Homo sapiens: one gene and its partners. The protein of the gene in region 1 interacts with the protein of each later gene in a biochemical or structural test. Each region holds a gene or a part of one and is shown in the gene's direction. Other genes may lie near its edges.

Region 1 (8,125 bases):
GCTAGTCCTCCATGAGTACTATCTCTAGACGAGAGCTTTTAAATGCGGGCTGTATTGTGAAGAATAATCCTTGTCAGAGAGTGTGATCAGTAGGTGGGGACAATATGGGAAGAATAGTCATTGGGTCAAGGAGTTAGAGGAAGTGATGGTGTCTTCCTGGGAGTATGGGTGTCTTACCAGTTACGCGGATAAAGGGGATAATGTTGGGAGTTCTCACCAGTCTGCTGTGAAGGACATGGGAGTCACGAAGCAGTTTACTGAGGACTCGGAGGTCACAAGCAGGAGGAGCCGGGCTGGACAGCGTTAGCCTTGCAGTTAGGAGAAGCATGACCACGAGGAGCAATTCTTAGATGAGGAGAGGTGAGGTTGAAAGATGAGGAGGAAATCATTGTCAGCTGGTATTCCAGGAATTCCCATTCAGGACCCAGACCTGAAACCCAGGGAATCCACCCCTCAGACCCCTTATTTTTGGGAGAATGGGTTCCCCCAGCTTCCTGCCCCCTGCAGCGTGTCTCCTTTCTCTCTCCCCTTCTGTCATGTTTCCATATGGCCCTAGCCCCTCAGGTGTGTTCTCACCAGTCAGCTCCATTCTGGCCGGGGTGTCTGGCTGGCGTGGCTCCCTGTTTGGGGCCTCTCCCCTGAATCCTTCCTGGGGCCATGGAGGCGGCTTAGGCTCTTGCACTTCTGGGCAGAGTAGGGTGGGGCAAAGGCGGGCCAAGGGTGAAGAATCTATCCTGAAAGTAGCAAGAAGAGTGAACATTTAACCAAGTTTCTAGGAAGAGACTGCCTGGCAGGGTGAACAGATGCTGGGGAGGGCTTGAGATGCTGACCAGCCTGGAACTGCCAAAGCCCTGAATTCTCTCACATTTTCTTGTGATGAAAGCATATGGTGTGCCGGGTGCAGTGGCTCATGCCTGTAATCCCAGCACTTTGGGAGTCCAAGGCGGGTGGATCACCTGAGGTCAGGAGTTCGCCACCAGCCTCACTAACATGGTGAAACCCCGGCTCTACGAAATACAAAAAAACTAGCAGGGTGTGGTGGTTCATGCCTGTAATCCAAGCTACTTGGGAGGCTGAGACAGGAGAATCGCTTGTACCTGGGAGGCGGAGGTTGTGGTGAGCCGAGATCGCACCATTGCACTCCAGCCTGGGCAATAAGAGTGAAACTCCGTCTCAAAAAAAAAAAAGAAAGAAAGAAAGAAAGAAAGAAAGCAAGAAAGCATATGGTGTCTCCTTTTTGTCAGGACTCCTCAGTGAATCGGACATGGATTTGGTGCCACCTACCCCTGCTGAGAGCAGCAGGACATGATATGTATACACACATATCTTAATTAGCCTTAAATTCTGAGCAACCTTGGTTGTTAGGTCAGAGAAAATCTGGGATGGGGATAGAGAAGGAAAGTATTGTGGCTTCAGCCTGGAGAAGAGAGTGGAAAATGGGATGCAGGGCCTGGGTGAGGAACTGGCAAACGGGCGCAATATGTTGAGGGGTAACTTCTGCGGTGGGGAGTGGGGCTGGGGAGGGGAACTGCACAAAGCTGTAACTGGGACCACTAGAGGTCAGGATTAAAAGGCGGTATGGGAGAAATTAACCTCTATTCTTTCCCTATCTACCCCCACACATAAAGCCACTGGAGCTTTTCTCTGGACTCCAAGTCCTGAAATACTCCATTATCTGAGGCCAAGAGATGGGCTAACAGTTCTGGGACTTCCTTCCTGAGACCAGCTGCCCAGGAACGGGCACCTGCTGGGTGATGCCCACCTTAGGGGCTTACCTTGTCTTAGGCGCCCACTAACATATCTGTCTCATAGCTCACACCTGCCTCCCTGCCCCCTTGGCAGAACCCCTTCCGGTTCCTTCACAGGACCCCCCACATGGCTTCCTCCTCCTTTCACAAGTTGTGCAAAGAGGCTTGCACCTGATTCAATATTGGGATTTCCTGTAGGTCTGTCAACATGAGTGGGCCCTCCTCCCATTACCCTCTCCTTGCGCCCTGGCTTGCCTGGCCCAGCTTCCCCAGCACCAGATTCAGAACCTTAAGCTAACGAGGAATGACCAGCTAAGAATGGGGATTGGGGCTGTGTCCATCTTACTACTGTGTTTGCTAAGCCCTAAGTGCAGCTCCCTCTCTTATTTTCTCCCTGGGCTCATGTCCCCTTTCCTTAGGGCCAGCCAGGGCTGTGCTGTATTCCACCAAGTAAGTGATCAGTCCCTCAGAAACCAGCACCCCACCCCCTACCCCTGCTCTGCCCTGCTCCTCCCATTCTGGGAAGGCTACACTCTTCTCGACAAAGGTCAGTGCCTGTAGGTTCCAGTTTGCCTGCCCCTCCCCCAGCTGGGAGCCCATTTCTCTTTGCTGTCCTTTCTACCCTCACATAACCCCACACCCTGCTGGCCACTCACCGGGTGGAGAAGGGCTCCAGGACCCAAGTGCACAGCAGGCAGCCCTCTGGGGAGCAGATGGGTAGGAAGACATGTGGCGGTGGGGCACAGCCCCTCCACAGCAGCAGGTCATACGCCTGCCTGGGCCACTTCTGCCCAATCAGAGAAGGGAGCCACCAGACACTGGTGAAGGCCCCCGGAAGTGACGCCTTCTCTTCCCTGGAGCCCCTGCCTGGACCAGGGTCCACTCCTCCACCCACACACACCACGGAGAAGATTTGGATAGGGGGATCCATCTTTTCCTGGACATGGGCAACCTGGGACCTGGAGGGGGACAGGAGCAGAAGTTTTTTTCCAGGAGGAATCTGGCAGGACATTTGTGTTGCTGGGGAAGAAGCACAGAGGTCTTGTTTAAGATTGGTGGGGTTTTCACTCCCTGGCTATCCAAATTTCTTTTCCCTGGACATCATACCTGCTGCTGAAATCCAACAGGATGCTTGCTTTCCTGCTTTTCTTTCTGTAATCCCCTAGGGAGTCCTATCTTGTCATTCCCCCTTTCGAAGTGGGAACACGGATATTGCCCACATGAGAGAAATCTCCTGTTATGGGTTGGTGTTATGGGGAAAGGGTTTGGACGGGTTGAGTGGACTGTCAGGTGCGGGGCACATGTATGTGCGCACACGTGCACTGGGTTAAGCCTGAGCTTAGGTGCTCGTCTGCTGGGGTCCAGTGGCTTAGATGGCTACACACACAGACCTCTGTGCCCAGGGCCCTCCTTTGCTTGTTCTGTCTCCGTCTTCCATCTCCTACCGTTCCACATGTGACAAGAGGAATAACCAGGCCCATGTGTCCCTGTCTTAGGAAAGACAGCTGCTGGACCTCCCCCGCAAATACCTCCCTGCTGGCCCCCCTTTTCCTTTGGCCCTGGCTCTAGCTCCTTTGCTTTCTTCCCAGTCCCAGTCTCCCCACAGTCTCTGTCCTCAGGGGCTTCCTGGCCTGACCTTGATCCCATCATCCCCCTGTCCCCCAGAACTTCCTCAGGCTCTCTCCTGTTCCTCCTCCCCAAGGATGGGCATGTCTGCTGAGAAGTGTGGCCTAGATCCTGGAATTTTCCCGTCCAGCCAGACGAGATGTCTCCCAAGATTAGGAAGGAGGGTGCTGGGATAGCTGGGAGGATAGTGGGTGTGTGTGGGAGGGAGAGACAGGAGACAGGGAGGCAGGCATGACCAGGGAACCAAGAGAAAGGAGGCTGGGAGTGGGCTGGAGAGGCAGAGGGTCCCTTGGGTGAAGGAAGGGGGTGAGAAAGCAAGAGGGGACTGTCGAATGCGCCTGAGGATAAGTTACAATGAGAGGGAGATACTGTCACTCCACAGAAGGGGGAATGCTGCCGGTTTCTGGCTAGGTCCCTGTCCTGGGTAACACAAGAATGAGGAGCGACCTCAGAGAGAAGGTAGGGAGGCAGGCTAGGCAGTGAGAGAGGGTGGTGAGGGTTTGGGGGGCGCTGTGGGCCCAGGCAGGGGGAGATCGGCTGATGGACCTTTCCTGTACGTTGTCATCTTTAAAGACAAGTCTTCATCCTTCGGGCGGAACCGGGTCCTCGCTCACAGAGCGGTCCAGGCCTCAGGCCTAGCCTCTGCCCCTCCCTAGCCTGAGGCTCCCTTCCTGGGCTGGACACCGACCTCCTGGTCCAGCCGCCCTGTGGCCGCCAGCAGCGGGGGGCTCCGGGCCCGCCTCTCCTCCCCCTCTTCGCGCCCCCTGGTCCCTCCCCTCCCCCTCCCCCGCTCCCCCTTCCCCTCCCGCCCCTCCCTCCTCCCCTGCCCGGTCCCAGCCCCTCCCTCCCCTCCCCCACCCGCGATCCGGGCCGCTGCTGCTGGGTCGGACCCCCCGGGCTCAGCCCGGCCCCTCGCCGAGCTGCCGCCGCCGCCCCGTTTGCTGAGGAGGAGGCCCCCGGCCGGGGCGTCGGGCGCGGGGCATAAAACGGGCCGGAGCCGGCGCCCGGGGCAGTAGAGCCGCGTACGGCCCGGGTCAGCGCCCGCCCGCCCGCGCTCCTCCCGGCCGCTCCTCCCGCCCCGCCCGGCCCGGCGCCGACTCTGCGGCCGCCCGACGAGCCCCTCGCGGCACTGCCCCGGCCCCGGCCCCGGCCCCGGCCCCCTCCCGCCGCACCGCCCCCGGCCCGGCCCTCCGCCCTCCGCACTCCCGCCTCCCTCCCTCCGCCCGCTCCCGCGCCCTCCTCCCTCCCTCCTCCCCAGCTGTCCCGTTCGCGTCATGCCGAGCCTCCCGGCCCCGCCGGCCCCGCTGCTGCTCCTCGGGCTGCTGCTGCTCGGCTCCCGGCCGGCCCGCGGCGCCGGCCCAGAGCCCCCCGTGCTGCCCATCCGTTCTGAGAAGGAGCCGCTGCCCGTTCGGGGAGCGGCAGGTAGGTGGGCGCCCGGGGGAGGCGCGGGCGGGGAGTCGGGCTCGGGGCGAGTCAGCGCCAGCCCGGAGGGGGCGCGGGGCGCAGGTGGCTCGGCGCGGCGGGCGGCCCGGAGGGTGGGCGGGGGCAGAAGGGCGCGGTGCCTGGGACCCGGGACCCGCGGGCAGCCCCCGGGGCGGCACACGGCGCGAGCTGGGCAGCGGCCTCCAGCCAAGCCCGTCCCCGCAGGCTGCACCTTCGGCGGGAAGGTCTATGCCTTGGACGAGACGTGGCACCCGGACCTAGGGGAGCCATTCGGGGTGATGCGCTGCGTGCTGTGCGCCTGCGAGGCGGTGAGTGCACCCCGCGGCCGGCCCGGGCCCTGGCGGGTGGGGAGCGCCGGGTCGCGCGGGCGTCGGAGTGGACTCGGAGCTGCTGAGAAGGAGCCCAGTCGGCAGATGTTGGGGATATTTTTCTGGTGGAGGAAGGGGAATCAGCCCCTCCAATTCTTAGGTGCTGTTACTGATCGCCCACTCTGTGTGAGGCTCTGTGCCAACTCCGTTTCGTTCCCTGCTCATCTAACTCTCATGGCAGCCTTGCTAGATAGAGAGTATTATTATCCCCATTTTCCAGACAGGGACCTTGAGGCCCAGAGAGATGAAGTAGCTTGTCTAGGGTCACGCAGCTTGTAAGTGGCAGAGCTGGCTGACTCTGCGGGACATCCTTGCCTGGGGGGGTCTCATCAGTTGGCATCTTGCACTCACTTGGGTTTCCCGCCTTTTCCGGGAGCAGCCTCAGTGGGGTCGCCGTACCAGGGGCCCTGGCAGGGTCAGCTGCAAGAACATCAAACCAGAGTGCCCAACCCCGGCCTGTGGGCAGCCGCGCCAGCTGCCGGGACACTGCTGCCAGACCTGCCCCCAGGGTAAGTCTTGCTCCGCCCTGCGGGGAGGGAGGCAGGGCCACGATACTAGGTCCCGGGCCACTTGGATGGGGCGTCGGACTGGCCTTTCCCATGGCCAGCTGAAGCCCGTGTTCTTACCCCCCCGCCCGCAGAGCGCAGCAGTTCGGAGCGGCAGCCGAGCGGCCTGTCCTTCGAGTATCCGCGGGACCCGGAGCATCGCAGTTATAGCGACCGCGGGGAGCCAGGCGCTGAGGAGCGGGCCCGTGGTGACGGCCACACGGGTAGGGGGCTGGCGAACAGCGGGGTTGTGGTTGAGGCTGGGCCACCAAAGCGGCGTTTGACAGTGCTCAGGCCATCTTCCTCCCGTCCCAGACTTCGTGGCGCTGCTGACAGGGCCGAGGTCGCAGGCGGTGGCACGAGCCCGAGTCTCGCTGCTGCGCTCTAGCCTCCGCTTCTCTATCTCCTACAGGCGGTGAGAAAGGGGAAGGAGCAAGGAGGGGTCAGCTGCCGGGGCCCGGGAGGGAAACTGGGAGAGCTGGGAGGGGCTGCTTTTGGCTCAGTCCGGCCTCACCCGACCTCTCATTCCCAGGCTGGACCGCCCTACCAGGATCCGCTTCTCAGACTCCAATGGCAGTGTCCTGTTTGAGCACCCTGCAGCCCCCACCCAAGATGGCCTGGTGAGATGATGCCATTTATGAGCACTTGCCCAGTCTGGGCACTGTGCCGAGAGCATGCTCTGCATTGCCTCCCGTGGTCCTCACCACAGCCCAGTGGGAGGAAGGCACTGACATTATGATGCCCATTTTACAGAAGGGGGAACTGAGGCTCAGTAGGATAATGTGATTTGTTCAAGGTCACACAGCTAGTAAGTGGTGCAGCCAGGATTGGAACCCAAGCATCTGGCTCCAGCGTTCTTTCTTAAGCTTCCTAGGGCACCCTGGAGGTTCCTTTCCATGTTCCTTTTTCATAAGCCCTGCCTGGGCATCCTAATTGGCCTAGCCTGCACAGTGTCTGAGCGTAGGGCCTTCTTGTCTCTCTGCTCCAGGTCTGTGGGGTGTGGCGGGCAGTGCCTCGGTTGTCTCTGCGGCTCCTTAGGGCAGAACAGCTGCATGTGGCACTTGTGACACTCACTCACCCTTCAGGGGAGGTCTGGGGGCCTCTCATCCGGCACCGGGCCCTGGCTGCAGGTAGGGAGCAAAGAGCCCCGGGCGTGAAGTTCTGAGTCTTCTCTATCACCCAGGAAAGGGGGGGAGGGTTTCTGACGGGCTCTCATCATCGTCCCTTCCCCAGAGACCTTCAGTGCCATCCTGACTCTAGAAGGCCCCCCACAGCAGGGCGTAGGGGGCATCACCCTGCTCACTCTCAGTGACACAGAGGACTCCTTGCATTTTTTGCTGCTCTTCCGAGGGCTGCTGGAACCCAGGAGTGGGGGTAAGTGGGATGGGGGCAAAACACGTGAGAAGGTTAGGGAGAGCACCTGTCTCAGAAAGGCCCACATGTGCGGCCTTGCAGGACTAACCCAGGTTCCCTTGAGGCTCCAGATTCTACACCAGGGGCAGCTACTGCGAGAACTTCAGGCCAATGTCTCAGCCCAGGTGAGTGGGGATCTGGCTCTCGCTGCCACCTGTCTTGGCCTCTTGCTATTGCCCATCACACCCTGCTCTGTCCCCAGGAACCAGGCTTTGCTGAGGTGCTGCCCAACCTGACAGTCCAGGAGATGGACTGGCTGGTGCTGGGGGAGCTGCAGATGGCCCTGGAGTGGGCAGGCAGGCCAGGGCTGCGCATCAGTGGACACATTGCTGCCAGGAAGAGCTGCGACGGTGAGGCGGGGGGGGGGCCTGGTGCGCCGGGCATGCACAACTGAGAGACACAGACAAGTGCCAGGGTGGGTGTGGGAGAGATCCTGTGGACTGGGGGTGTAAGCGGCCATGGGGTAAACCTAGCCTCACCTGTCTTGCCCCTCCGTAGTCCTGCAAAGTGTCCTTTGTGGGGCTGATGCCCTGATCCCAGTCCAGACGGGTGCTGCCGGCTCAGCCAGCCTCACGCTGCTAGGAAATGGCTCCCTGATCTATCAGGTAAGAGCCAGGGGCTGCAGAAGGTGGGGGAGGGGTGGCGTGGGCAGCAGGCCCCAGGCCTTTACTGCCTCTCCACTTTGCCCTCCTCCATCCCTGCCCATCAGGTGCAAGTGGTAGGGACAAGCAGTGAGGTGGTGGCCATGACACTGGAGACCAAGCCTCAGCGGAGGGATCAGCGCACTGTCCTGTGCCACATGGCTGGACTCCAGCCAGGAGGACACACGGTGAGGGCTCCAGGTGGAGCTGGACCCCAGGGCCCAATGCATGGGCTGTGGGAAGCCAGGTTGGATGAGCAGGGATGTTCATTATCATCCACTCACTCATGGGTTCTCCCACTCATTCATTTATTCATTTGACTTTTTTTTTTTTTTTTTTTT
Region 2 (7,742 bases), on another chromosome or scaffold:
AGGGTGTGAGTCAGGAGCCAGAGCGCCCTCACTCGGCCCTCTGCATCCCTTCTTCCACCCAGCAACTCTTGTTTTTGTTGTTTGTTAGATATACAAATAACATATGCACACAGTAAACTTTTTGAACAATCTAGCAATGCATAAAATAACAAGTGAAATTTCTCCCCTTGACCCTCCTCCGGATCCCATTCCTCAGAGGTGACTAAGCATTGGTAACACTTTCTGGTGTCTCCTTCCAGACCCTTCTAGGTATATATGTGCATGTAAGCATGGATGAGTATATATGTATGTATATATATACAAGACAAAAAGGAATTGTATGCACACGTATATGGTCTTTTGCAACATACCTTGCACTCAGCAATGAATTGTGGTCGCCGTTCCATGCCAGCACTCAGTCATTTTTATGGCTGCTTAGAATACTATCGTCTTGATTTCTCTCAATTTAATTATTCAGTTGCCCCCTGAGGTCTCTATTGATGGAGATACACACACACACACACACACACACACACATATCTTATATATTATATAATATATAATATAAATAATAAAACCAAATTTCCATTCAGTGAGCCAGTGCAATCCCGGCTCACTGAAGCCTCAGCCTCCTAGGCTCTGGGGATCCTCCCACTTCAGCCTTCCTGGTAGCTGGAACTACAGACACATGCCACCATAGCTGGCTAATTTTTTAATTTTTCTAGAGATGGGGGTCTCACTGTGTTGCCCAGGCTGGTCTCAAACTCCTGGACTCAAGCGATCCTCTTGCCTCAGCCTCTCAAAATGCTCAGTTACAGGTATGAGCTACCATGCCTGGTCCACATTTGGTAATGAGATGCCATCTACTCCCTCGCAAGAGCTAGAATGGACTTGCATCTTCAGAGTTTCAAAATGCCAGGACTTATAATAGTAACAATAACTTTTGATGATGATAATAATAACCAAGAGTAATATATAGTGTGCTTTTCTTTATTTTATTTTATATTTTTTTCGAGACAGAGTCTTCCTCTGTCACCCAGGCTGGAGTGCAGTGGCATGATCTAGGCTCACTGCAACCTCTGCCTCCCAGGTTCAAGCGATTCTCCTGCCTCAGCCTCCTGAGTAGCTAGGATTACAGATGCCCACCATCACACCTGGCTAATTTTTTTTTGTATTTTTAGTAGAGATGAGGTTTCACCATGTTGGCCAGGCTGGTCTTGAACGCCTGACCTCAAGTGATCCACCTGCCTTGGCCTCCCAATGTGTTGGGATTACAGGAGTGAACTACCGCGCTTGGCCTGTAGTGTGCTTTTCAAAAACATGATCTTACTCAATTATATCACAGAATACCACAATTAATAAAAGGTCCCCCAAATAAATATAGTTAAACTCATATATGAATTTTTAAAAAGAATAGAAGAAAAAGGATGGGCTGTGGAGCTAAGCTGGGTAAGGAGAGAGAGTAGATGGGGGTGACCGGCAGTGGCATTGCCCTGGGTGCAGTGGGTTGAAAGTCGCAGTGATGAGAACTGACGGAAAGGCTGGAAACTGAATGGAGAGTGGGGCCCTTGAAACTGAGATTATGGAGGGGCAGACAATTTTCGATGAAGCCGGCCTGCACGGCGTGACGTGTTGGTGTGTGGCCGGGAAGGTATAGAGAGGTGGAGAGAGGAGGTCGCAGAACTGAGCGGCCAAGAAGTGGGAAGGGTCCTCTAGGCGGACATTGGAATCACCAGGTATTCTGATAGGGCCCGTGTCAGAGTGACCAGGAGCCAGGAGCTCCTCCCCGACTAGCATTGATGCTGGCTACAGACAGCCACTGCCAGTGCCCACCTTGGAATCTTTTTCATCCTGGCCTCCACTCTGCCTCTAACTCTCTAAGAAGGTACAAGGGAGGCAGACGGTCCCCTTCTCTAGCAGAGAACCCAGCTCTCCCAGAGCAGGACACCCCTGAAACCATCGAGTGTCCGCTGCACTGGCCTCGCAGGTCACGGTGAACACATCCCTGGAATCCCTACTTGTTGGAACTCTGAATACACAGCAGGCTTTGGGCCCACTCTGGGACCTACCGAGGAAGTGGTTTCCCCCCGGAAGTGGAGGGAAGCCATTAAACTCTCTACCTGTTAAAATGCCCACCTGCTAAGGAGGATTGGTACTTACCAAGATGTAACATTCCTCCAGTAGCGAGCGAGCGTTTCCTGAGCTTGGAGCCTGAAATGAGGTGCTCAGGACAGACAGTGCCTGTGCCTTGGAAGTGTGATGTCAGGGTAGGGACTCTTCTCCCCATTGCACGCAGGACATAGCAGAGGCTCAGAGGTTGCGTGGTTTGCTTGATGACTCACAGCAGGAAATGCAGAGTGGAGATTCACACCCAGGCTGTTGTGACTGGGGTCTGAGCTTTCTCACGCGTATGTCTCATCCCTCCCTAAGCCTGGAGCTTCTTGAGGACAGGGACGGATTCAGATCTGGTGTCCTTTCAGCAGTTAGTGTGTCCCCCTGCCCAGAATCAGTACTCAATAAATGATGATGGGGCCGGGCACAGTGACGCACTCCTGTAATCCCAGCACTTTGGGAGGCTCAGATCGGAGGATGGCTTAAGCCTGGGAGGTGGAGGCTGCAGTGAGCTGTGATTGTACCATTGCACTCCAGCCTGGGTGACAAAGCAAGACCCTGACTCAAAACAAACAAACAAACAAAAAAGTGATGATTGGCGACTCAGCCCTTCTTTCCTCTTGCCTCTCCTCTTGGGACCCTTCGTCGCTACTTCAGACCCTCCAGTACCCTCACGCGGCCCTTGGCCCTTCCTACCACTGTAGAGACCAGTTCCTCTTGAAGATATTGTGGGTTGTGTTATCTAATTGACTATGAAGAGAGCTGGAGCCAGGGGTTCTACCCAAAGTGACGTCTCCTTCCCCTCCTGGGCCTTCTAGGAAGAAAGCTGACCATACACAGACAACTGTGGAGGAGGGGCGGTTCTGTGCCAGGAGCTCCTTTTGGGAGCCCCTTAACTCTCGCCCAGGGGGACCTGCCTCGCGTAAGGCGGGCGGTGGTCATCATGGGGCTGGCAGAGGGCTGGTGCAATGTTCGGGACAGCTTAACCCTCTTCCTCCCCTGTTGCCCTAGATCATCCTGAACTTCACGTCCCTGGACCTGTACCGCAGCCGCCTGTGCTGGTACGACTATGTGGAGGTCCGAGATGGCTTCTGGAGGAAGGCGCCCCTCCGAGGTAACGGCACCAGCCACCCCCTGCCCCCTCCATGCTGATTCCCTCTCTGAGCCACCCTCATCACACTCTTCATCCCCCTCCAGGGCCCAACACTGGCCAGGGATGACAACCTGGTATGGGAGCCAGGAGTCCTGGCATCATTAGTCCCAGATAGCTGCATTACTCACTTGCTGCGAGACTTCAGGCAAGTCCTGTCCTCAATCTGGACTTCAGAGTACCCAGTCCAGACTTCTGGGCCTCCCTGTGAAGTTGGCTGTCACCCTACGGGTGCAAGGAGTCATCAGAATTGACTGAGAGAGACAGACAGGCTGTTCTGCGCATCCCCATGGCCCCAGGCTCTCTTCCTCATCTGGGCACTTTCAGAGGATCCACTATTTTTTTCTATCTGCCCTTCTGGTTTTTGAGTGCCCACAGTGCAGCCTGGCTCAAAAGAGAGTCATCATAACCTGCCAGCCCATCTCCTAACTCACTGCCGAGGGCTGCACACTGGGCGCCGTGGCCCGACCTTGTCTGCATAGGATACTTTGTCCCGAGGAGGGTAGGGGGCAGGAGGTGAGTCAGTGGGAGTAAGTGGGTCAGAAGCACAGAACAGAAGGTGCTTTAATGAACCTAGAATTAGGGCAAAGGGAGGCAGGTGATCCTAGAGGGTATTGCAGCAAGCCCGAGGAGCCGTGTGAATCTCCTCCTAGCTGGACGTGATCGTAAGGAGCTCAGGACCACTCTTTGGCAACAGAACCTCTTCTCCTCAGCCTATGCCTAAAACAGCCAGACGGATATTGCTAACCTCTATTTTCCCCCCAGTTTCCGATATTTAAATATTTCTTTTTGGTCACTCAAAGCAGCTGTCCTTACAACACTTCCTCTCGTAGACGTGTTAGTGTTTTTCCAAGATGGGAGTTTCTTTTTCATAACTTACATTCCTGGGCCAGCACCCTCTGTCCCTTGCTGAATGTTGGGAAACACCGGCCTTATTAGGAACACACAACTCATTCCTAGTTGATTCTTGACTACAAAGAATTCCACAGATGGCCGACCTCATTCACTTATGTTGATTCTTATTCATTTTTATTTCAAAGTGGACATTTTGTGAGCTAGTCCCCAGATTCTGTGATTTATTTAGGGTCCTGGGGCATCCCTTGCATTTGACCAAATAAAAACATGTCTGTGAGGGCAGTTTGTAATGTGTAAAGAAAGCCATGTTTATTTCTGATTATATTTCTGATTTTATTTCTTATTTGGTCTCTTCTTTGCATAGAGACCAAATAAGAAAAGGTAAATAATGATGGTAATATGCTCTTTAGAAAGGTAAATAGAACACATATATAGTTGGACATTATAAAGATCTACCTTGGCCAGGCACGGTGGCTCACACCTGAAATCCCAGAACTCTGGGAGGCCAAGGTGGGTGGATCACCTGAGGTCAGGAGTTCGACACCAGCCTGGCCAACATGGCAAAACCTCATCTCTACTAAAAATACGAAAATTAGCTGGGTGTGGTGGCAGATGCCTGTAGCCCCGGCTACTTGGGAGGCTGAGGCAGGAGAATTGCTTGAACCCAGGAGGCAGAGGTTGCAGTGAGCCAAGAGCGTGCCACTGCACTCCAGCCTGGGTGACAGAGCGAGACTCCATCTCAAAAAAATAAAATAAGATAAAATGAAAAATAAAGATCTACCTTTCCTCCTAGAAATAGACTCATATCCTATCCCTCAAGTGGTCTCTGGCTCTCCAAAGCCAAGTTGGACCTTGGACCAGACAGAAGCCAACCAGAGGGTATACAGTCTTGGGAATGTGTGAAGTAGGGTGGCCACAGATCAGGGCCCAAGCACCCAAGCCTCCTGGAGAGGTGGGGCCTCTATAGGGGGTGTCCTCAGGGTTCACCACTCTTCCATCCACACTGTCTGTGCAGGCCGCTTCTGCGGGTCCAAACTCCCTGAGCCTATCGTCTCCACTGACAGCCGCCTCTGGGTTGAATTCCGCAGCAGCAGCAATTGGGTTGGAAAGGGCTTCTTTGCAGTCTACGAAGGTACTGAGGAAGGCGGCGGGCGGGAGGAGTCAGATAGGAGGTCTCTGGGCATGGTAAAACAACTCCCTCCTGGCACCTGAGGGGCAAGATTGTGGGTTCCCAAGGGAAGAAGCAGAGAGAATGATGGGATTGCCTGGGACTGGGGGTTTGGTGGGGAACTGAAAAGCTGGGGGACATGGGAGGGACTGGAGGAGTGGGGAAAAGAGCTCCCTAGCAGGGCAAAGCATGCTGACTCACCACCCCTTCCCACCCCATCCTGTGTCCCCACAGCCATCTGCGGGGGTGATGTGAAAAAGGACTATGGCCACATTCAATCGCCCAACTACCCAGACGATTACCGGCCCAGCAAAGTCTGCATCTGGCGGATCCAGGTGTCTGAGGGCTTCCACGTGGGCCTCACATTCCAGTCCTTTGAGGTAGGTCAGTGGCCCTGTGATCTGACCTTTGAATCCAGCAGTTGCTCCCTGGGACAGCTGCCTCTCTTTGGGCTCCCAGGGGTGGGTCTCTGGCAGCCAGAGCCCCTTCCACTGATGAAGCCTCGACCCCTAGATTGAGCGCCACGACAGCTGTGCCTACGACTATCTGGAGGTGCGCGACGGGCACAGTGAGAGCAGCACCCTCATCGGGCGCTACTGTGGCTATGAGAAGCCTGATGACATCAAGAGCACGTCCAGCCGCCTCTGGCTCAAGTTCGTCTCTGACGGGTCCATTAACAAAGCGGGCTTTGCCGTCAACTTTTTCAAAGGTGCCTCCTCTGTTACTCTCCCCTGCCCCAAGGTGCCTCGTGACCTTCATCCCTTCTTCACTCACTCATTCAACACGGAGACTCCAGGAGGCATATTGATACCAGTGAGACCCCAGGGCTGTGCCCTTAAGGAGCTCTGGGCTAGCTGGGGAGAAGAGGTCCCCCAATGTGGATTAGAGGCAGGACCTGCTGTATGATTCAGGGAGGAAAAAAGGCAGTTGGAGGTTTTTTTTACCTGTGTGACCTTGGGCAGGATATTCTCCCTGAACCTCAGTTTCTCATCTGTAAAATGGGCACAGTAACAGTCCCTCCGCCACAGGCTTCACATGAGGATTGAAGGAGAAATGAAAGAGGGGTCCTTAGTCAGGGAACAGCACGTGAGAGACACCAGCCCAGTCCATGTGCTCTGAAGGAAGGCTCTGTGGGGTTCCAGCCATCGGGGAGCTGGGTGGGTCTTGGGGCTGAGTGGACAAGTGAGGCTCACAGCCAGCTTCTTCCCTTGAATGCCTGGAGTCTGTGACACCCTTTCCTTCCCACCACAGAGGTGGACGAGTGCTCTCGGCCCAACCGCGGGGGCTGTGAGCAGCGGTGCCTCAACACCCTGGGCAGCTACAAGTGCAGCTGTGACCCCGGGTACGAGCTGGCCCCAGACAAGCGCCGCTGTGAGGGTGAGTGCCCCCAGACTGCCTCTGACCCTGTTCTTTCCCTGGCACCAGCCCACCTGCCCAGAATTTTTTTTTTTTTTAGACAGGCTTTTGCTCTGTCACCCAGGCTGGAAGTACAGTGGCTCAATCTTAGCTCACCATAGCCTCCCATTCCTGGGCTCAAGCAATCCTCCCACCTCAGCCTCCCAAGTAGCTGGGACTACAGGTGCACATCACCTTGCCTGGCTAATTTTAAAATTTTTTTTGTAGCAATGAGGTCTTACTTTGTTGCCGAGGCTTGTCTCAAACTCCTGGCCTCAAGTACTCCTCCTGCCTCGGCCTCCCAAAGTGCTGGGATCACAGGCTTGAGTCACTGCCAAGATTTCTTATGCCCTTGGACAGACCCCTTCTTGGAAAAGCTAGATGGATACCCCAACACTCTTTTCATAGCTCATGGATAAGAAACACATGTCACATTGCAACCCCGAGAACACACTGTCCCCCCGTAGGCCGCATTCTGGCTTTGGGTTTGTTTTGTTTTTTCATTCTTGGGGTGTTTTCGGGTTTTTTTTGTAAATGACCATCTTGACTTGCTAACTGATATCACCACCCACCAGGGTGTTATGATCTACAGGTTGGGAAACCCCTGTTGTGGGACAGACACTGTTTCCGCCTCTCCACGCATGGTCCCGAGATGCTGGGGACAGCACTCCGAGGCTAATGGCTCCAGCTCACTAGGCCGATCCTGCTGTGCCCCCGAGCTGCTCCCTTTCCTGCACCTCCCAGGACCGCCCCTCCCTGAACTGCTTTCCCTGAGCCCCTTATTCCCGCTCACTCCCTCTTGGAGGACCTTGGCCTGTTCATTTGCAGAGAAGATAGAAATGGCCACACTTATGACCCCTTAGCTCCCCCACTCCTCCCTACAGGCCCACCCCTGAGGACACCCAGGCCACCCTGCCTCCTCCCGTCCGCCCCAGAGGGACCAGACACAGGTCCCTGAGCCTTGGGGAGTCCACAGGCTCCCCATCTTCTCCTTACTGCATCCCAGCCCACATCTCAGCCCTTCCCCATGGCAGGGGCTCCCCGCAGACGATGCCACCTTCCTTGTCCCCGCAGCTGCTTGTG
Region 3 (7,742 bases), on another chromosome or scaffold:
TGAGCACTCTATTCAGATGATTTAATCTGTGTAATCTAATTAACATAGCAAAGAGGTTCAATGAATGTATTTAGAAAAAAAATTAGCTGGTCAAATAATAGATAAATTGTTACCCTAAGTATGATGTATTAGTTGTCCATTGCTATGTAACAAATTACCCCAAAACATAGCAACTTAGTGCAATAAACATGTATTATTTCATGCAGTTTCTGAGGGCCTGGAATCTGGGAGCAGTTTAGCCAGGTGGCTGTGGCTTAGGGTCTCCCACAATGTTGCAGGCAAGTTGTTGGCTGGGATTGGACAATCTGCTTTCAAGATACTTCGAAGTTATATCTCTTCCAATCATCAAGGCAGGCCTCTTAATGTAGCCACCACTCTCATTTTTCTGGGGAGAAAAGTAAGAGGAAGTAATGTGGCTAAGTTAACAGGCTCGTATTGAACTCCTGATTAGCTTCCTTTCTAGTTGCAGGCTGTGCACTCAGAAATTCAGTAGCCACACACATTAGCATTCTATGTAAAGTATGAGTCAGCTAACATGACTGTAACCCTCACTTGAGAGTAATTGTGTATATGTGCTAGAGTGACAATTGTTTTTATACATCAGAAGCATTTTGTGCTTATTTCTGACATTTTGGTCCTTCTCGCTAATAGTTGGAATTCTACTTGCCCCCATTTCGTACTCTGATAACCCTAACTTTGCATTTCAAACCAAAACATTTAACTAGAGAAGTGTGTTTGCTGTTCAGTTTTTAACTTTTTCGCTGTGGACATTTTCAGGTATAAAAGGAGAAGAATATAATGAACCATCCATGAGTAGTTACTGCAGTCACTACCTCATGGCTACTCTTATTTTATCTATACCCTCCTACATTATTCACTCCCAGCTGTTTTAATTTCAAGCAAATCCCTTGATACTGTTTTGTTGATAATTCTAATATGTATCTCTAAAAGAGAACTCTTTACCAACATAGCTATTAGACCAATTTTACAGTTTAAAAATTAACACTAATTCTTTAATCACCTAATTTTGTATGTGGAAATCTTAATAAGGCACGCCTGCTTAGGCTTGTGTTGGCTGGAAACTTTGTGTCTGCAAATGAAGCCCAGTTTTGTGCTATGGTCAGATGAGGAGTCTGTGGTACCTCCCAGATTGTTTCAATGTAGCTTCATTATTCATTATTCACAATAAAGTCTCATAACATTTGCTGTATTCATGTTTAGATGGAAATTCTCTTAAATTCCAAATTATATTCTTGACTCTTCAACTCTATAACTTGCATTAGTTCAAGTAATTAAAAATTGTACTTTGGCCATGCACAGTGGCTCATGCCTCGTAATCCCAGCACTTTGAGAGATTGAGGCAGGAGGATCACTTGAGCCCAGGAGTTTCAGACCAGCCTGGGAATCACAGTGAGACCCTGTCTCTACAACAAATAGTTTTTTTAAAATTAGCTGGGCATGATCATGTACACCTGTAGTCTCAGCTACTTGGGAGGCTGAGGCAGGAGGATCATTTGAGCCCAGGAGGTTGAGGCTGCAGTGAGCTATGATTGTGCCACTGCACTGAAGCCTGGGTGACAGAGCAAGACCCTGTCTCAAAAAAAAAAAAAATTGTACTTTATTTAAAATACCTTGCTTTTAAAGGGAGTATTTAAAAGAGAAAGCTTTTGATTAATATGGGTAGATACTTGTAAAGGTTTTTTTGTTTGTTTGACTCTTTAAAAATTTTTTGGCTCTATTACAGCTTACTACAGCCTTGACTTCCCAGGCTCCAGCGATCCTCCCATCTCAGCCTCTGGTGTAGCTGGGACTACAGGCACGTGGCACCATGCCTGGCTAATTTACTTTGTATTTTTGGTAGAGACAGGGTTTTGCCATGTTGCCAAGGCTGGTCTCAAACTTCTGAGCTCAAGCGATCTGCCAAGGCTGGTCTCAACCTTCTGAGCTCAAGCAATCTGCCACCTCGGCCTCCCAAGTGCTGGGATTACAGGTGTGAGTCACCGTGCCTGGCCATTAAAAAAATTTAAAAAATTACAATTACAAAAATTAGCTGAGCATGGCGGTGCATGCTTGTAATCCCAGCTACTTGGGAGGCTGAGGCAGGAGAATCACTTGAACCCAGGAGGCGGAGGTTGCAGTGAGCTGAGATCGTGCGACTGCACTCCCACCTGGGCGACAGAGCAAGACTCTGTCTCAAAAAAAAAAATTGTAAAAAAACAAAATACTTCAAAATGTAAAGAGTACTATATCAGTGTAAAAAAACTGGAAAAGCAAATGGAGCTTCACCTAACTCAAATGGTGATTCTAGTAAACAAAATCAGCTAGGACGTATTTTCAGTCACAAATTCATGGATGCTGACATTTCTGATATTCCGTTGTAGCTTCAGAGCCAGGAAACATCAAACTTTTTTCTGGAGTAGTGGACACAACTATCCTGGTGGATGGTAGACTACTTGGATTTAGAAAAGATCTAGGGCTGGGCCGGGCGCGGTGGCTCAAGCCTGTAATCCCAGCACTTCAGAAGGCCGAGGCGGGCGGATCACAAGGTCAGGAGATCAAGACCATCCTGGCTAACATGGTGAAACCCCGTCTCTACTAAAAATACGAAAAATTAGCCAGGCGTGGTGATGGGCGCCTGTAGTCCCAGCTACTCGGGAGGCTGAGGCAGGAGAATGGCGTGAACCCAGGAGGCGGAGCTTGCAGTGAGCCAAGATCATGCCACTGCACTCCAGCCTGGGCGACAGAGCAAGACTCCATTTCAAAAAAAAAAAAAAAAAAAAAAAGAAAAGATCTAGGGCTCAAATATTGAGGATTTTCTTGTTTGTTTATTCACAAACATTTATTGAGTGTTGAAATGAAATGTGATTAGTTCCACTCTTCACCTAGTTTTGTGGACTCCCAAACTCTAGCAGATTATTTCACATTCTGATCTTTAGTTTCCATGTGTTCCTCTTACTATGGCTGTGTGGCAAACCACCCCAAAAACCAGTGGCTGGAAACAGCATTTATTTTGCTCACGAATTTGCATTCTGAGCAGGGCTCTGCGGAAGAGTTCATCTCTGTTCCACGTGGCATTAGCAAGGCGGCTTGAAGGTGGTGGGGGTGGAATTATCTGAAACAGCACTATAGATAGAGCTTTCTGCGATGATGGAAAAGATCTACATCTACCCTGTGCAATACAGTAGAATCTAGCCATACGTGGCTACCAAGTACTTGAAATGTGACTAGTATGGCTGAAAATCTGATTTTAAATTTAATTCAATTTCAATTTCATTAGCTGCATAGCTGCATATGACTAGTGGCCACGTATTGGACATTGAAAATCTGAAGGCTCACTGATAAAGTCTAATACCTGGGCTGGGAAGATTCTTCAGGTATACGTCTCTTCCTGACTTCTCCTCCCCTTCCTCCCTTCTCTATCCCCATCTCCCTCCCTCTCTCCCTTTCACTCTCTCTGTGTATATATGTGTGTGTCTCTGTGATCCTGCTATATGATCTCTCCTGCAGGTCCACCTGGATTTAAGTGGAGGGAACATAGGCCCCACCTCTGTTGGAGGAGTGACAGTGTCATGTTGTAAGCTGAACATGTGGATGGGATATAATGGTGTGGCCATCTGTGGAAAATACACTCTGCCACATATAAACTGTAAAGTGAATTGGCTGGCTAGGTGAGCTCAAAATTTTCTTCTAGTTCTAGGCAGTTTTAAAGAAAGAAACCAACTAGTATGTGTCAAATGTTCTCTTTTTTTCATCAGAGTAATAAATTATTAAATTATTAGAAGGCTACATAGTGAAAAATTGAATCTCTTGATCTAATTCTCCCTACTCATTCTATTACCCTGGGAAAACCGCTTTTAATCTAACTCTTATATTTTTACTTCTGTTAGTAATTTTTAGCCATATGCCTAAATAATATGCTTGTACTACTATTTCTTGATTCATCAGTTTTAGATGTTATATATCTAAAATTGCCTTTCTGCTATAACAGATAAGGTCATAGCTCATCATGTCATCCTTCCCACTCCTGCCCTGCCACACTTGTATCACAGTTTTGAGTTTATCTCTTGGTTATTTTTTCAATTTCTTCAATATATTTAAGGTTTTCTATTCTGTTCTATCAACTGGAGACACTATCTCTTTATTCCTGATGTAAGTGGAGAATATTAATAGTCCTTTCCTTTTAAAGTTTATTTTATTTTATTATTTTTTTTTTTTAGCAATGAGACAGACTATAAGTGAGTTTTAAGAACAGTGCATTTCTTGAGGGAATTGAAGAGAGGGTTTGTTTGGGTTCCAGTCTTGGGAGATCATGTGAAGCTACCATGTTTAACATCATAGAAAGCAAAGAAATCAGTTTTTTCCCTTGCATTTATGAGTACTGCCCTTGAAATTTTCTACTTTTGGCATTCTGATGGGCTACTTTTGGAATTCTGATGGGCTGCATCAAAATCTGTGGGGAACGGAGTGTTACCTGTACTTTTACTTTTATATTGTCAAGGTTGATAACATCTACATTCTGAGAGGCTGCATAGTATAATGGTTAAGCGTATGAACTCTGGAACCAGGCTATCTGAATTTGGATCCAGTTCTGCCACTTACTGGTTGTATGACCTTGGGCAAGTTAGTTAATCTCTCAATGCCTCAATTTCCTCATCTGTAAAGCAGGGATAATAACCATACTGTGCGAGTATTGTGAGGATTAGGTGTAAAGTATTTAGAGCAATGCCTGGCACGTGAGTGCACTATAGGTAATTACTAACCTTATTTCTCTGTTTTGTAACTCTATTTGAATCTTCTAATGCTTTATTTACAGGTATATTCTAAAACTGGCAATAAACCATGTTTATATTGTAATGATTATATAAATATTGTTGACTGTTGACTGTAGTCACATAGGTACTATGATTACATTTCCCTTCTTGAATGATTTTGTTTTTCTTGAGTTTCTAATTATCTTTCTTTACCTTGTATCATCAATCATTAGCACCTTATATTGTTTTAAGTACTTAATGTATTTTTCCTCCCAAATGGAGCCTTCAGTCTTGATGTTTCCAGACTTAACTGATTGCAATCTAGGTCTGATGCAAGCTGTCTTATGGTGACTTTCCATCATTACTTTCCCAAGTTGGTTCCAGTGTTTCTTGGATTTCGTATCTTGTTGTTTTTAACAGTAACCCTTATTTTGTCCCAACATGCCCTCAAGTAACTTCCTAAGAAAGCCTGTGTGGAAAGTAAGCTTTCTGGGTCCTGCATGTCTTGAAGATGTATTTATTCTCACCTTTCACCTGACTGATGGTTTGCCTGAATACAGAATTCTATGTTAAATTCTTTTCCCTCAGAACTTTGGAGACATTTCTCTATTATCTAATAGCATTCCATATTGCCAATAAGAAGTCTGATGCCAGTCTGTTTCTTATTCTCTATAGGTAACTTTGTTATTCTCTCTAGAAACTTTTAGTATCATCTCATTAGCCTTCATATTATGGAATTTAAACTGTTGAGTCTAGTGTTGGTCTTTTCATTCATTCTGTTTGGTATCTTGTGAGTCTTTTGGGGATCAGTTTTGAGCCAAAGACTAGGAAATGCCCTGTTTTGTTTTTTGTTATATATATATATATATATATATATATATATATATATATATATATATATATCTTGTCCTAACATACATACATATATAATATATACGTTTTATATAACTATATTTTTGTATAATATATAATTATGTATAGTGTCCTCTTTTCTTTCTGGAACTCTTATTAGTATAAATCTAAGATGGATTCTCTGTTAGATTTTTTTTAAAAAACAGTTTTATTGAGATATATGATTCATATATTATAAAATTTACCCATTTAAGGGTACAATTGAGTGGTTTTGGCATATCGACAGACTTGTGCAACCATCACCACAATCTAATTTCAGAACATTTTCATTACTTTAGAAGGGAACTCCATACCCTTTAGAAGTCATTTCCTATTCTCTCTCCCCACAAACCCTAGGCAGTTTACTTTCTCTCTACATGCTTGTTCTGGACATTTAATATGAATGGAATCATACCTTGTCTTTTGTGTCTGACTTCTTTCATTGAGCATAATGTTTTCATGGTTCCTGTGTGTTGTAACATATTCAGTATTTCATTCCTTGGTCAAATAATATTCTGCTGAATGGGCATACCACATTTTATTTATCCATTTATTGGTTGGAGGATATTTGAGTTACTTATATTTTTGGCTATGGTAGATAATACTGCTATGAATATTCAAGTTTCAGTGTGTGGATGTATCTTTGTTTGTTTTTTAAGAGATAAACTGTGTTACACAGGTTTGTTTACTGCCTGTGCACACAGGCAGTGGTGCAATCATTGTTCACTGTAACCTTGAACTCCTGGGCTCAAACGATCCTCTCACCTTGGCCTCCCAAGTAGCTAGCACTACAGGTGTGTGCCACCATACCTGGCTAATTAAAAAAATTTTTTGTGTGTGGAGACAGGATCTTATTATGTTGCCCAGGTTGGTCTTGAACTCTTGTCCTCAAACGATCCTCCTGCCTTGGCCCCACAAAGTTCTGGGGTTACAGGTGTGAGCTGCTACAGACAACCCTGGATGTATCTCTTAATTTTTCTTTTGTATATACCTAGGAGTAGAATTGCTGGGCCATATGGCAACTCTGTGTTTAACATTTTGAGGAACTGCTGAAGTGTTTATTCTAAAGTGGCTGCACTATTTTACATTCCTACCAGTTGTGTATGAGAGTTCTAGTTTCCCTATAGCCTCACCAACACTTATCTTTCCTTTTTATTGTAGCACCTTTGTGGAGTGGTTATGATTTGCATTTCCCTAATAGCTAATGATGTTGAGCATCTTTTTATGTGCTTAGTGAATGCATGTGTGTGTGTGTGTGTGTGTGTGTGTGTGTATGTATGTATTTTTTTTTTTTTTTGAGAGAGGATCTTGCTCTGTCACCCAGGCTGGAGTGCAGTGGTGCAATCACGGCTAACAGCAACCTCAACCTCCTGGACTCAAGCAATCCTCCCACCTCAGTCTCCCAAGTAGCTGGGACTATAGGCATGCACCACCATGTCTGGTTAGCTTATTGTATATCTTTGGGGAAATACCTATTGAAAACCAGTGCTCTTTTTTGTGTGTGTGTGTTTGTTTTAGACGAGAGTCTCATTCTGTTGCCCAGACTGGAGTGCAGTTGCTCTATCATAGCTCACTGCAGCCTTGAACTCCTGGGCCAACACGATCCTCCTGCCTCAGCCTCCTGAGTAGCTAGGACTACAGGTATGTGCCACCACACTCAGCTAATTTTTAAAATTTTTAAATTCTTTATAGGGATGGGGGGTCTCACTGTATTGCCCAGGCTGGTCTTGAACTCCTGGTCTCAAGTGATCGTCCTGTCTTGGCCTCTCAAAGCGCTGGAATTACAGGTGTGAGCCACCATGCCCAACCCAGAACCTATGCTCATTTTAAAATTGGCTTGTCTTTTTATTGTTGAGTTGTAAGAATTCTTTATATATTCTGGGCTCAAGACCCTTGTCAGATACATTATTTGCAAATATTGTCTCTCATTCTGTGGGTTGTCTTTTCAACTACTATGTATCATTTGTATCACAAAAGTTTTACATTTTAATGACATCCAATGTTTCTGTTTTTTTCTTTTGTTACTTGTGCTTTTGGTGTTGTATCTAAGAAACCATTACCTAAGCCAAAGTCATAAAGATTTACTTGTATGTTTTCCTC

What was found.
Region 2: of the proteins of CHRD (region 1) and BMP1, one has a biochemical effect on the other in vitro, tested with the Homo sapiens proteins (3 studies listed by BioGRID and IntAct).
Region 3: the proteins of CHRD (region 1) and TWSG1 form a complex in vitro, tested with the Homo sapiens proteins (one study listed by BioGRID).

What each region holds. Positions count from the first base shown.
Region 1 is NC_000003.12:184,375,671-184,383,795, forward strand, and holds the start of CHRD (chordin isoform 1 precursor), read left to right. Parts: upstream 1-4,383; 5' UTR 4,384-4,648; coding exon 4,649-4,796; intron 4,797-5,021; coding exon 5,022-5,125; intron 5,126-5,405; exon of another isoform or gene 5,406-5,460; intron 5,461-5,564; coding exon 5,565-5,694; intron 5,695-5,825; coding exon 5,826-5,954; intron 5,955-6,045; coding exon 6,046-6,145; intron 6,146-6,262; coding exon 6,263-6,350; intron 6,351-6,718; coding exon 6,719-6,860; intron 6,861-6,963; coding exon 6,964-7,104; coding exon of another isoform or gene 7,105-7,185; coding exon 7,186-7,268; exon of another isoform or gene 7,269-7,345; coding exon 7,346-7,493; intron 7,494-7,641; coding exon 7,642-7,748; intron 7,749-7,852; coding exon 7,853-7,972; intron 7,973-8,125. Other genes in the region: THPO (thrombopoietin), read right to left, coding at 218-345, 577-734, 2,405-2,679. UniProt on the Homo sapiens protein: Dorsalizing factor. Key developmental protein that dorsalizes early vertebrate embryonic tissues by binding to ventralizing TGF-beta family bone morphogenetic proteins (BMPs) and sequestering them in latent complexes.
Region 2 is NC_000008.11:22,188,947-22,196,688, forward strand, and holds part of BMP1 (bone morphogenetic protein 1 isoform 3 precursor), read left to right. Parts: exon of another isoform or gene 1-473; intron 474-2,139; exon of another isoform or gene 2,140-2,649; intron 2,650-3,102; coding exon 3,103-3,205; intron 3,206-5,111; coding exon 5,112-5,228; intron 5,229-5,498; coding exon 5,499-5,644; intron 5,645-5,777; coding exon 5,778-5,973; intron 5,974-6,515; coding exon 6,516-6,641; intron 6,642-7,733; coding exon 7,734-7,742. UniProt on the Homo sapiens protein: Metalloprotease that plays key roles in regulating the formation of the extracellular matrix (ECM) via processing of various precursor proteins into mature functional enzymes or structural proteins.
Region 3 is NC_000018.10:9,337,608-9,345,349, forward strand, and holds part of TWSG1 (twisted gastrulation protein homolog 1 precursor), read left to right. Parts: intron 1-5,403; exon of another isoform or gene 5,404-5,426; intron 5,427-7,742. UniProt on the Homo sapiens protein: May be involved in dorsoventral axis formation. Seems to antagonize BMP signaling by forming ternary complexes with CHRD and BMPs, thereby preventing BMPs from binding to their receptors.